Regions from separate parts of the Homo sapiens genome. Here region 2 is linked to region 1. The links come from fine-mapping of genetic effects on plasma protein levels. A gene starts in region 1. The other region holds a variant in brackets. All regions are shown on one strand. Distances are from middle to middle.

Region 1 (8,168 bases):
CTGTGGGGCAGGGGCACACGACTGTGTGGGGTGGGTGGGAGACAGTGAGGGACACCCCCTCCTAGCTGTCCTGACTCAAGACCCCACTGGGAGCAAACACTAGAGGGCCTGTTCCTTTGTTGACGTCAGGCTGAGATTTTAGAGGGGGAGGTCCGGGTGGCCAGGGCCAGGCCCAGGACGGGTGATGACAGCGCAGACAGCCAGGAGCCAGCTCTACTGACTTGCTTCCGGAGTTTATTGTGCAGGATGAAGCCTGAGTGGGCAGGGTTGCTTTGGCGGGGAGCCGGGGCAGGGGCTCGGGGAAGGAACAGAGCAGAGACATCCAGAGCGTGGGGGTCACCTGGCTGGCCGGGATCCCAGCTTCAGCCCTGGGGAGTCCTGAGGGGTGTGACCGAAAGGCTAGGATGGAGGACTGCAGTCTACCCCAGCCCACCTCCACTCCAGTCGATGGAGCAGGTGCGGGCTACGGGGACTTTTCTCTGCCCCCAGCCCCACTGAGCCCCGCTGAGAGAGCAAGATCCATCCCTGGGGCTTGGATCCCCGCTGCCCCAGGGTCTACAGACTCCACCCTTCCCAGCCCCAGGGTCCACAGACTCCAGCTCCAGCCTAGGCCTCCCTCCTGGGGGTGGTGGGTGAATCCGCCCTGAGCCTGCTCTCCGAGCTGTCCCACGGCATCCATGTAGCGTCCTTGGCCCTCCCCTTCCATCCCCTGTTCCCTCCCATCCTGTCTCCCCCACCCTGGTTTCCTCCTAGCCCAGGAGCCAGACACCCTTGCTGCCAGGTGGTCCCTGTGGTATAGCCCCTTGGCCTTGTCTGCCTGGGGCCTCGCACCTGCACCCCCCAACCATGAGCCTTCAGGAGTCAGCCCTGTTCCAGCCACTGGGACAGGTTTTCCTTCTGAGCCTCACACCTGTGCACCCATCAATGTGGGCAGCCCCAGTGTCTCCCGCCCGGCCCTGGACTGCAGCCATCGGGAAGGATGGGTCTGCAGCACCAGGCTGTCCTGGGGCCCTGATCCATCCCATCGCAGAGTGGGTTGGGTGGATGTGTGTTGAATGAATGAATGAATGAATGAATGAATGAATGAATGGAGTGGCTCACCTATTGTTCCGTCATGCACTTATCTGCCAAGAAAGAAGCCAGGGGCTGTCGTCAGAACCCCAGACTTAGGCCAATTTTCCCACTGGGCTTCCTGTTCCTCCCGTAACGCAGAGCTCGTCTTGACTGAGCCCCCAAACTGCACAGATCCCCCATCACCTCCCACCTCTCCCTGGGCACTGGAAACAAAGAGAGGGTCTTTCTCCACCTCTGCCAAGAGCAGGCTGTCCACCCCTAGGAGGCTGTGCCTGAGCCCAGTATGGTTGGTTCCCCTGTATCCCCCATGGGCACCCTCTACCCTATGCCCCCCACCAGGCTGAAGCCCCACATCCTGGGAGCTGCTGGGGCCTGGCACAGAGTGGGCGCCTGGTCTCCATGTCCCCCATGGAGGGGGCTCCTCATGAAGGGGCTGCGGGAGGGAGGTTCTGACTTGAACACTCACCCCCTCTGTCCCTGGCCCAGGCCTCGAGCAGGGCGGGGCCACCTCCTCCCCTCTGCCTCCCCCAGTCAGGAGACTGCCTGCCTGCCTCTAATCTGACCTTGATCCTCTCCCCATCAGATTAGGACCCCTCACCGGTTTGGGGCAGGAAGACAATGGTATCCTCTGTGAAGCCCTGGGCCTTGCAGAAGGCGGTGAATTTCTCCTTTAACTCAGCCCTGGGGGTCTGGGTTCGGCCTGGGACAGGGTGGAGACGGAGCTGGCCTCAGCGGGGGGGATGCTGTGTGCCCTGCCCTGGGTCTTGGGGAGCCCCCTCTGGTCAGGCCTGCGTGTGGGCGGCGTCCACGGGGCACGTACTGTAGAGGGTGGCCATGCGGAAGTCCTCGCCAGGGCCCTTGCTGCCCTGGCTGTACAGCAGCGCGTACTGGTCGTAGTCGGTCTCCACCACTGACACGGAGTAGGTGCTGCCCCAGTCTGGGAACCCAAGAGACAACCCTGTCGGGGACTCAGCCCCCCAAACCTCACCTCTGCTTCAGGGAAGGGGTGCACCTGTGGGCTTTGGGGGCACTCAGCCCCTCGGCTGGCCCGGGATGCTCCCCCACCCGGCTGCTCTCCAGCCAGTGCCCTGCTCTCGCCTGCACAGCCTGTGAACCCTGTCCCCAAACCAGAATCTGGGGGAGCCAGGCTCAGAAAACCAGGATTCCTGGTGCAGCCGCAGAAGTCGCTGCCAGAACCGGAAGTGAAGAGGTTTCCCCGTGGGAGCCATTCCCCAGGTGGGAGTGAGGAAACCCCTGGGTCCTGGGGAGGAGAATTGGGAGGAGGCATATGGAGGGGCCTTGGGGGGCTGCTTATGTGGGGAAAACTCCAGAGGGCAGGGAAGGGGCCTGACAAGACAATGGTGGGCTCCAGAGAGGATCCAACCCCCTGGAGGAAGGGTCTCTCTGTCCCTAACACTTGTGCATGGGTAGTCACGCCCAGGCCTGGCCTTTGCCTCTGACGCTGGTGGGGCAGCCATCACCTCCCACCCCATGGATCTCCGCGGCAGGGGGCTGGCCCAGAGTCGTCCCGGCAAGTGTCGCCCCCAGGCTGGGCCCAGGGGGCCGGTGGAGGCCCCACTCACGGGGACTCCGGTAGCTGTAGGAGCCGAGGGACCCCGCGGGCTGCAGCAGCATGGTTCGGGTCTCACACTGGTTTTTCCTGTAGGTGGGTGACCTCAGGGTCAGGGGTTAGGCCCGAGGGTGTCCCTGGACCTCTCCGTCCCAGAAACCCACCTGCCCGCTGTCCCACCTGAGGAAGGTGGAGGTCAGGTTGAGGCCACCATCCGTGGCAGGGGCCACCACAGACTTGCACATGGACAACGCCGCCTTCTTCTCCCGGAGCCAGCTCGAGTTGGAGGCGAGGCCCGCGCTGAACCAGCGCCCCAGGAACTGCGGCGAGCGACCCCCACCCGCGTCGGCCAGGACCCTCCGGACCCACCTGCGCCTACCTGCGGGGGCGCCTCTGCCGTCTACTCCTCCGGTCTCCAACCCGGCCCCGCCCCCACGCCCAATCCCCCGAGCAGCCACGCCCCTCACGCCCCGCCCCAGGAACTGACCCCCGCCCCTCAATCCCCGCCCCAGGAGATGACCCCGCCCCTCACATCTCCGCCCCAGGAGCTGACCACGCCCCTCACATCCCCGCCCCAGGAGATGACCCCGCCCCTCACATCCCCGCCCCAGGAGCTGACCACGCCCCTCACGACCCCGCCCCAAGAGCTGGCCCCGCCCTTCATGTCCACAACCAGGGAACTGACCGCGCCCCTCACGCCCCATGCCCCCCTAGGAGCTGACCCCGCCCCTCACGTCCCCGCCCCAGGAGCTGACCACGCCCATCAGGCCCCCGCCCCGCCCCGGGAGGTGGCCCCGCCCCTCACGCCCCGCCCCAGGAGATGACCACGCCCCACTTCCCCCTCCCCCGGAGATGGCCCCGCCCCTCACGCCTCAGCCCCAGAAGCTGGCCACGCCCCTGACACCCAGCACCCCCGTCTGGCCACGCCCCTCCCGAGGACAGTCCCTCACCCTCGCACGCCGCCCACCAGCCAGCTTCGGCCCCTCCGCCCCCGGTCCCGATTCTGTGCCCTGGCTGAGCGCCTGGCCCATACAGCGGGCGGCAGAGGACGTCGCATTCCTGGCGGGGATCGGGGCGGGTCTTCGGCTCAGCTCTGCGGACCGCTGGGGTTCTCCTCGACGCCAGGGAGGGGCGCGCGGCGCGGGGACCCGCGCTCCGGCGCTTCCCCGAGCAGCTCCCGGGCGAGAGCGCGCGTCGCCGGCTGTCTGTGCGGTGCGCGTCCCTCCCAACCCCCACCGCGCACGGAGTGTTTGTCGCCATCCCTGTGCCCCACCCGCCCGTGTCCTGGCACCCAGGTGTGGAACGTGCGCTCGTGTGTCCTCTGGGGGTCGCGTGCCCACAGGGGTGGACGTGTCTGGCTGGCGTGGGCGCGTGTGTGGCCCGGTGTCTGCGTGGCCCATCAGGGGAGACGGGACGCGGTGCCCAGGGAGGGCTTCTCGCGGGCAGCCTCCTCGGGCGGCTACCCAGCCTCCTTCCTGCGCGCCCGCTCAGTCCCTGGCCGGCACTGCCCGGCACTGCGGGACTTCGCTCACTCCTCCCAGGGGGAAGACCCAGCCGGAAAGTGCCCTTCCCCTGACAGGGTCCTGTAGCCCTTGGGGATGACGCAGGAAAGCCCCTCACCTTGTCCTGCTGGAAGTTGGGCTGCACGGAGACCTGGGCCTCCGGTGCTGCCTGCAGGTCGCCCAGCACCCCCAGCAGGGCCAGTCCCATCCACAGTGTGTGATGAGTAGCCATTCTCCTGCAGCAGAGCGGGTGTCCGGGGCCTGGTGCCAGTGGTGTGGGAGAGCGAGGGAGGTGTGCAGGAGGAGCGGAGGGCACTGAGGAGACCCCTATTTATGGGCCAGGCTTGGCCTCCACCCAGGGCCCGGGGACAGCCCACTGAACACTCGTGATGCTGGGGGATGGGGTGGCCAGGCACAGCTGCAGCCTCGTCCCCCACAGGGCGCTTATGCAAGAGGCCTGGGCCTGCTGCCCCAGCTGAGGCAGCGTGGGGGTGAGGCAGAGGCCCCTGCCCACTGGTCCCAGAGACAGAGCTGGCAGGGACCTTGCCCACCCTCCTCCTGCTGGCAGGGCCCACCAACCCAGCGGCCCTGATAGGGCAGGGGCTGTGTTCCTCAGCCATGCCCGCCTCCGAGGCCTCTGGTGACTTCCCACTGGGGGCCAGGACCCACATCTCACAGCCCCTACCATCATTCCCTTTCCGAGCCCTGCCACCCCAGAAGGGGACACAAGCCCCACTTCCACCCTGAGAGTTTGGTCCTGAAACGCCCAGCAAGTGAAGTGTTGATGAGAAGCTCAGGCCAAGGTAGAGAAACTTGATCTGGCCCGCAGGGTCCCGAGGGCCAGGTTTGCTGGGCATGGCTTCCCCCATGGCCAGCTGTTGGGGCTCTGATAGTGACCCCTGGGTGCCCATTTCAGCCTGGGGCACCTTTGGGCTTGAGCACAGGCCCTATCCCTTGCCAGAGGCCCCAACTTCCCCCAGCAATCCCCCCACCCCAAGTCTGCCCCCCGCCGAGTCTGGGCCTCCCCACCCCGAGTCTGGTCCAGACTCGGGAGCACCCCGTGGGGCTGTCCTGTTACCCCAGCGCTGCACCCAGCTCCTTGGGCCCCTCCAGCTCGTTGGCCCTGGCTGGGGCCCTGTCACAGGCCGTCACAGGCAGGCACATGTGGTGGGCCCTCTCTGGATTCTGTTGGGACTGAGCTTCCCTGGCAGGCGTGGTGGGTGAGCGCTGCCGCTGGTCTGAAGGTGAGCCCGGGTGGGGAGCTGGGAAATGTACATGAGAGCAGGAGTGAGTCGGATGGGGTGGGGTGGTGAGCTTCTACGGGGCTGCTGGCGACCACTGGGGGCCGGAGCCCGTCTTCTTCCTGGATTCTGTGGCCCATCCCTTGCTGGGGGCGCACGAGCCCTGGGAGTGGGCTGGTGTGGACTGCTTCCTTGTTCCCCTTCCCCAGTGCCCGGGGGTCAAGGAGCCCAGACTGGGGGAGGCGCATGCCTATGTAGCAGCAGGGGCTAGTGGGCAGCACTGGTGTCAGGGCTGGTGGGGGTGGCCGGGTAGCATCCCAGGCAGAGGCCAAGGTGAGGGAGTGAGTCCCAGGGAGCCGGGAGGCACCTGAGAGGCAGGGAGAAGGAGGGCAGCGGTGCAGGGGGGCCAAGGCAGTCCTGAGAACCCACTCCTCCACCTGGACCTCCTATCAACCCCTGCCTGAAGCAGCAGCGTGCTGCTAGCTCAGATGCCATCTGTGCCATGGGCTGAGAGGGAGAGTCTGTTGGAACAGATAGGGGTGGGGTGCCTAAACCCGGGACCCCGCGTGGCCCGCAAGCCTGGCTCAGCTACAGAGCTGGGGGCTGCCGTCAGGACAGGGGAGGGGCAGGAAGAGAGTTGCGGCTGGGATATCACCACAAGACTGGCCTCCTGCCCGCTGCCAGCTGAGTCCTGGCTGTCATTCCACTCTGGTGGGGCTGGTGGCTCGCTGACTGGCCTGGCTGGAGGTCCCAACCCAGGCTAGGCTGGTCCAGGACAAGAGCGCCTCCCGGTGGTGAGCAAGCTCTGGGGTGTGGTGGCGGGTGGCCCGGGGCAGGGAGACCCAGGACACGTGGCTCTGGGTCTGAATGGCTTCCGTCTGGGCAGGCCTGGGTCACCTGCCAGGGAGGGACTCTGAAGTCTGATGGGGCCGGGTCCTCCCATAGCCAGAGGGGTTCCCAGGGATCTCGGGTGTCCAGCCCTCAAACCCAGTGCCTGGAACAGGGACCAAGCCCCTCCTCTTCCCCATTTTCTAGTGGGCTGCAGAAAGCCCAGCAGGTCCCATGTCCCTTCTCCTCCCTGACCAGTCGTTACCGAGACCATATGGTCGTTGGCGCCTGGAGAGCTGGAAGAGCTAACAGGATCATGCTTCGGTTCAGGACGGACTCCTCAGTCCCTGTGGTCAAGATGGCCAGCAGGTGGTCAGAGACACTCCCCAGACACGGCTGAGTGAGGACCAGTGAGTGGGAGCTGCCCACGAGCCCTGATTCATGGGTGCACCTGGGCCCACCCGAGGGCTGGAGATTCATCTCTCACCACATCCAGGAAGGGCTGGGCAGTTGCCAGCTCCTGGCACGCCAGATTTCTCCCCTCCTCCCCCGGCTAGGACTGTGCAAGGTGGACAGGGGCAGGAGGGACCTTCGCAGAGCCTCTTGCAGCTTGGGCAGGGACAAGGACCACCCTGCACACTCTCTGTGCCCTTCCCTTTGCTCTGAGCTTGGCTGCCAGGCAGGACCTTAGTGGAGCCTGGCGGAGGGCTGGGCAGGAAGAAGGCTGGCCGCCCCACCCTGCTCTCTGGGAACCAGTCTCTTTGAGTCACAAAATGCAAAGACTTGGCCTCCACCCTAAGAGGTCACCAAGGCCATCCCCCTGCCTGCGGCCCAGGCAGGTCATGGACAAGCCTGGTGGCCTGGGCCTAAGCTCCCAGAACTGACCCCAACCTTTTCCTGGAGGGAAGCTGTCTCCACCCTGGGGCCCCGGCCAGCATCCTCCGGGGGCAGTGATGACCCTGTCCAGCATCCCCACCAATGGTTTGCCCTTGAGGGCCGAGGCTGTCCCAGTGACTGGTGGGAGCTGAGCTCGACTGAGTGTCCACCAGCCTCAAATAAACTCATGGGGACCTCGTGAGCCCCACCCACCTGCAGCCTGGGATCAACTCCCCCAGCCTGGGACTGGGGAGGGGCAGCCTCTACACCCCACCTTTCAGAGGTACCCAAGCCTCACGGCCCCAGAGGCTCACTCCTGCCAGAGCTGCCCCGCTGAGGATCTTCCATAGGGAAGGGCAGTGCCCGGGATCACTGAGACGCTGTGGAGTGTTCTGGACAAGTCAGGGGCAGAGCAGGAGCACCCCTGAGATTGTAGCCGGGGAGACCAGGGCCGGGTGCGGTGGGGGCAGCTCAGGGCTCCTCTAGGGGCAAGAAATTCTCCCCAAGGCCTCCCTGCGTCAAGGGAGCTGCTCTGTGATTGAAGGAGGCCTGAGTGGACGGGCCACGTGGGACAGCCCCTCCTCAGGGCATCTCTGAGCTGCTCAAAGCACATGGGACCCACTCTTCACCCAGCCCTCCTCTCTGTGCCTGTCTGTTTGGGTGTTCACTGACATGGGGGACGGCCACCTCTCCGCTCACCCTTTCTGGCTGCCTCTGGCCACCTCTCCCAGCACCACCCTGGAGGTCAGGCCCGCCCAGCAGCCGGGGACGGCGCAGAGGACAGGGCAGCCCGGGACAAGCCAGAGGATAGGGGAGCAGATATGTCCCTGGGACTTGAGGCTCATATGTGCATTGCTGGCCATGGGGTCCAAAGACGGTTATGGCCAAGCCTCAGCCAATTCTGCAGCTTTGGAGCCAGGGCTAGGCTGGCTGTCTGTGGGGGACAGATGGCAATTTGGGGGTGCTGAACGATCTGTCCAATGTGGGGTCCAGCAGGCTGGTCAGAGGCTGCCGCATCCCAAAGGTAGCAGGGCCGGGAGGAGGGGGCGGCCCAACCCCCAACACCACACCCGCACC
Region 2 (2,304 bases), 260 kb before region 1:
CACCCTGAAGCCTGGGCCTGAGCCCAACAAGGACAGCAGCCACCCCTGTTGCACAAAACTGGTTGGGGAAGGCTCTGTAGGTCCCACCCTGAGCCAAGGTGCCCTGCTGCAGGATGGAGAGGCGGGATAGTGTGGGGCAGGAGGACCAACTCCTGGGCCTGGGGTCTGTGGCCAGGCAGGATGTGGTCCAAGGAGGGCCAGAAGGGCAGGGAAGCGGGGCAGGCGTGGCTGTGGGAGTGCTGGGCACCTGCCCTCCTCCTCCTGCAGCTGTCGGAGGATCCACAACGAAGGCTCTGTTTACTGGTGGCCATGGTCCCAGTGGGAGGGTGTGTTACCGCCAGGCAGGGACAGCAGGCAGACAGTATTGGCTGCCTTAAAGGACCAGACGCCCAGCCTTTGTGGGAGGCCTCACCTGCCCTGGAAGGACAGGTGCATGGGGTGCTTCCTCCCTCTCTCCACAAGGGCCTCACTGATCCCCCCCCAAAGGACAGGGGAGCTCCCCGGCCCCTCAGGCTCCCCAGGGAGCTAGCCAGGCTTGTCCCCTACAGGGGTGCCAGACGGTTCTATGAGGCTGATGTCAGGTCCACAGGGGCGTCCTAGAATCACAGGGCTGTGAGAACCAAAGCTCTAGCTGCTGGGGGTCCCATTCTCACTGGAGCCCACCCCTGAGGCACCCCTGGCTCCCAGAGCAGGTGGTCACCTCCCTCGGTAGGTGAAACCAAGGCCCAGGAGGCCTAAGAGTTTGAGGGGTGGCTGGGGCAGAGGACCCAGGGAAGACTGGGGGCCAAGGGCACAGAGGGTCTGGGGGTCATGAGCAGGGGCAAAGGGAAACTGAGGGCAGAAAAGAACAGAGCCACAGAGGAGAAGTGGCCGTGGGGCCCCCTCAGGCCTCATCTTCCTGAGTGGCTGCACCTCTATCCCCTAGTGGGGTCTGACCAGGCAATCCTGGGAGGCTCTGGGAAGAGAGCTGCCCCCCAACAGGGCTGCAGTTCTGGAAGGGAGAACGTGACTGGCCACAGCAGCAGACTCAAATGAGCAAACTAGACCTGTCCCTGATGGGACCGTCCCCTCACCCACCCGTCTCTGTGTGCCTGAATGAATGCTCCAGTTCTGGGGTAACCCAAGGCTTTCTTCCCTTGGCGGGAGTGGGGGTTGGGTTAGGGCTGTGGGCAGCTCTGGGCTAGAGGTGGCAGGAGCCCCCCCTCAACTTCCTAGGTGTCCAGTTACCCATTGGCTGGCAGACAAGCCTTCCTGTGTGGAAACCCGACCACACAGCAGAGGGAGGGCCCCCTGGCCCCCAAGTCCTCCCCATGGGTGCTGTCCGCCCTCCTGGGCCCACCCCACGGACAGGCCTTCCCGGGACAGGGTCTCATTCTCCGTGGCAGTGGGAGGCCTCAGTGTGCCCCAGCCTGGCGGGTGAGACTGGCTTCCTGGTGGGTTCTGGGAGCTGAGCACCTGCCGTGGCCCAGCCCTGCAGAGAAGTGTCCCCGAGGGGCCCAGCCCAGGACCGGCTGAGAGACACAGAGGGCAGACAGACAGGTGGTGCCTCTGGGACCACCTGGCCCTCCAAGCCGTCAGGGTCCCTTCTCACACCCCACGCACCTGATGGGACTCCAGTCCCCACCCCAACCATGACATCCGCCGGGGCAGAGGAGCTCCGGGATCCCCCACACCCTGCACCACCGGCCCTGCTCCCTGCTGGCTGGGCTCTCCCCTGCGCCCCCAGGAGGGGCCCCAGCTCCCACTGTGGGAAGTCCCCGCCCCCCCAGGCCCGCCATTCCTTGGGAGCTTCTGTCCCCAGCGGCTGCCGTGAGAAACACACCTTGGGGTGGGCGGGCTCCTGTGCCTGAGCCCCAGGCCCCGGAGTGTCCACCAGGAGGCAGCATCGGGCTGCTTCCCCCACCTGCGCAGGCGGCCCCTGTCTAGGGGAGTGAGGACCGCCACCCCAGATAACAGCCTGGTTTATTTGCACAGAAGGGGAAGCAGGTGACCGGAGGTCAGCTGCCGCGGGGACCCCCCCTCCAGGGCCCTCC[AGAGCCCTCCC/C]AGCCGGGGAGGGTGGGGCGGTCTGCTCAGCAACTGCCCGTCACAACTGCTGGGAGGCCAAGATCTCAGGGTTCTCGTAGCAGTAGGCCTCTTTGGTGGTGGCCTTCGGGGGGCTGCAGACGTTGCAGGGGCAGCAGCGGGTCACCAGGCGGTCCCAGGGCTCCAGAGAATGGAGCCAGACGGGGAGCCAGGCCCAGGAGCGCAGGCGGACAGGCAGCCAGGCCGGCCGGCGCCGCTGCAGGACAGTAACCAGGATGACGA

Direction of the effects. Positions count from the first base shown, and alleles are read on the strand shown. Strength reflects both the effect of a copy and how common the allele is.
For the plasma level of the protein whose gene starts at base 4,453 in region 1, C is the low allele of the variant in region 2 and AGAGCCCTCCC is the other (weak association).

Evidence for each region. PIP is the chance, under the fine-mapping model, that this variant and not a neighbour inherited with it causes the effect. The UK Biobank Pharma Proteomics Project read protein levels with antibody pairs (Olink). The fine-mapping took linkage between variants from a reference panel, not from the people measured, so its PIPs are less certain.
Region 2: its variant is fine-mapped to the plasma level of the PTGDS protein (UK Biobank, PIP above 0.99).

The regions. Positions count from the first base shown.
Region 1 is chr9:136,973,789-136,981,956 of GRCh38, reverse strand. PTGDS (prostaglandin D2 synthase) reads right to left here and starts at 4,453. Exons shown (of 7, transcript NM_000954.6): 1 at 4,265-4,453; 2 at 2,825-2,964; 3 at 2,658-2,734; 4 at 1,895-2,011; 5 at 1,673-1,774; 6 at 1,102-1,124; 7 at 215-378. The coding sequence starts at 4,378. The coding sequence ends at 1,102. It also overlaps LOC124902312. RefSeq lists an enhancer at 2,414-3,393.
Region 2 is chr9:137,236,196-137,238,499 of GRCh38, reverse strand. SLC34A3 (solute carrier family 34 member 3) reads right to left here. Exons shown (of 13, transcript NM_001177316.2): 13 at 1,945-2,304. The coding sequence ends at 2,084. Among named protein-coding and RNA genes, the nearest start is that of TUBB4B, 3.9 kb to the left of the region's middle. RefSeq lists silencers at 1,558-1,787, 1,808-2,137. The variant AGAGCCCTCCC/C (reference allele first, on the strand shown) is at 2,034.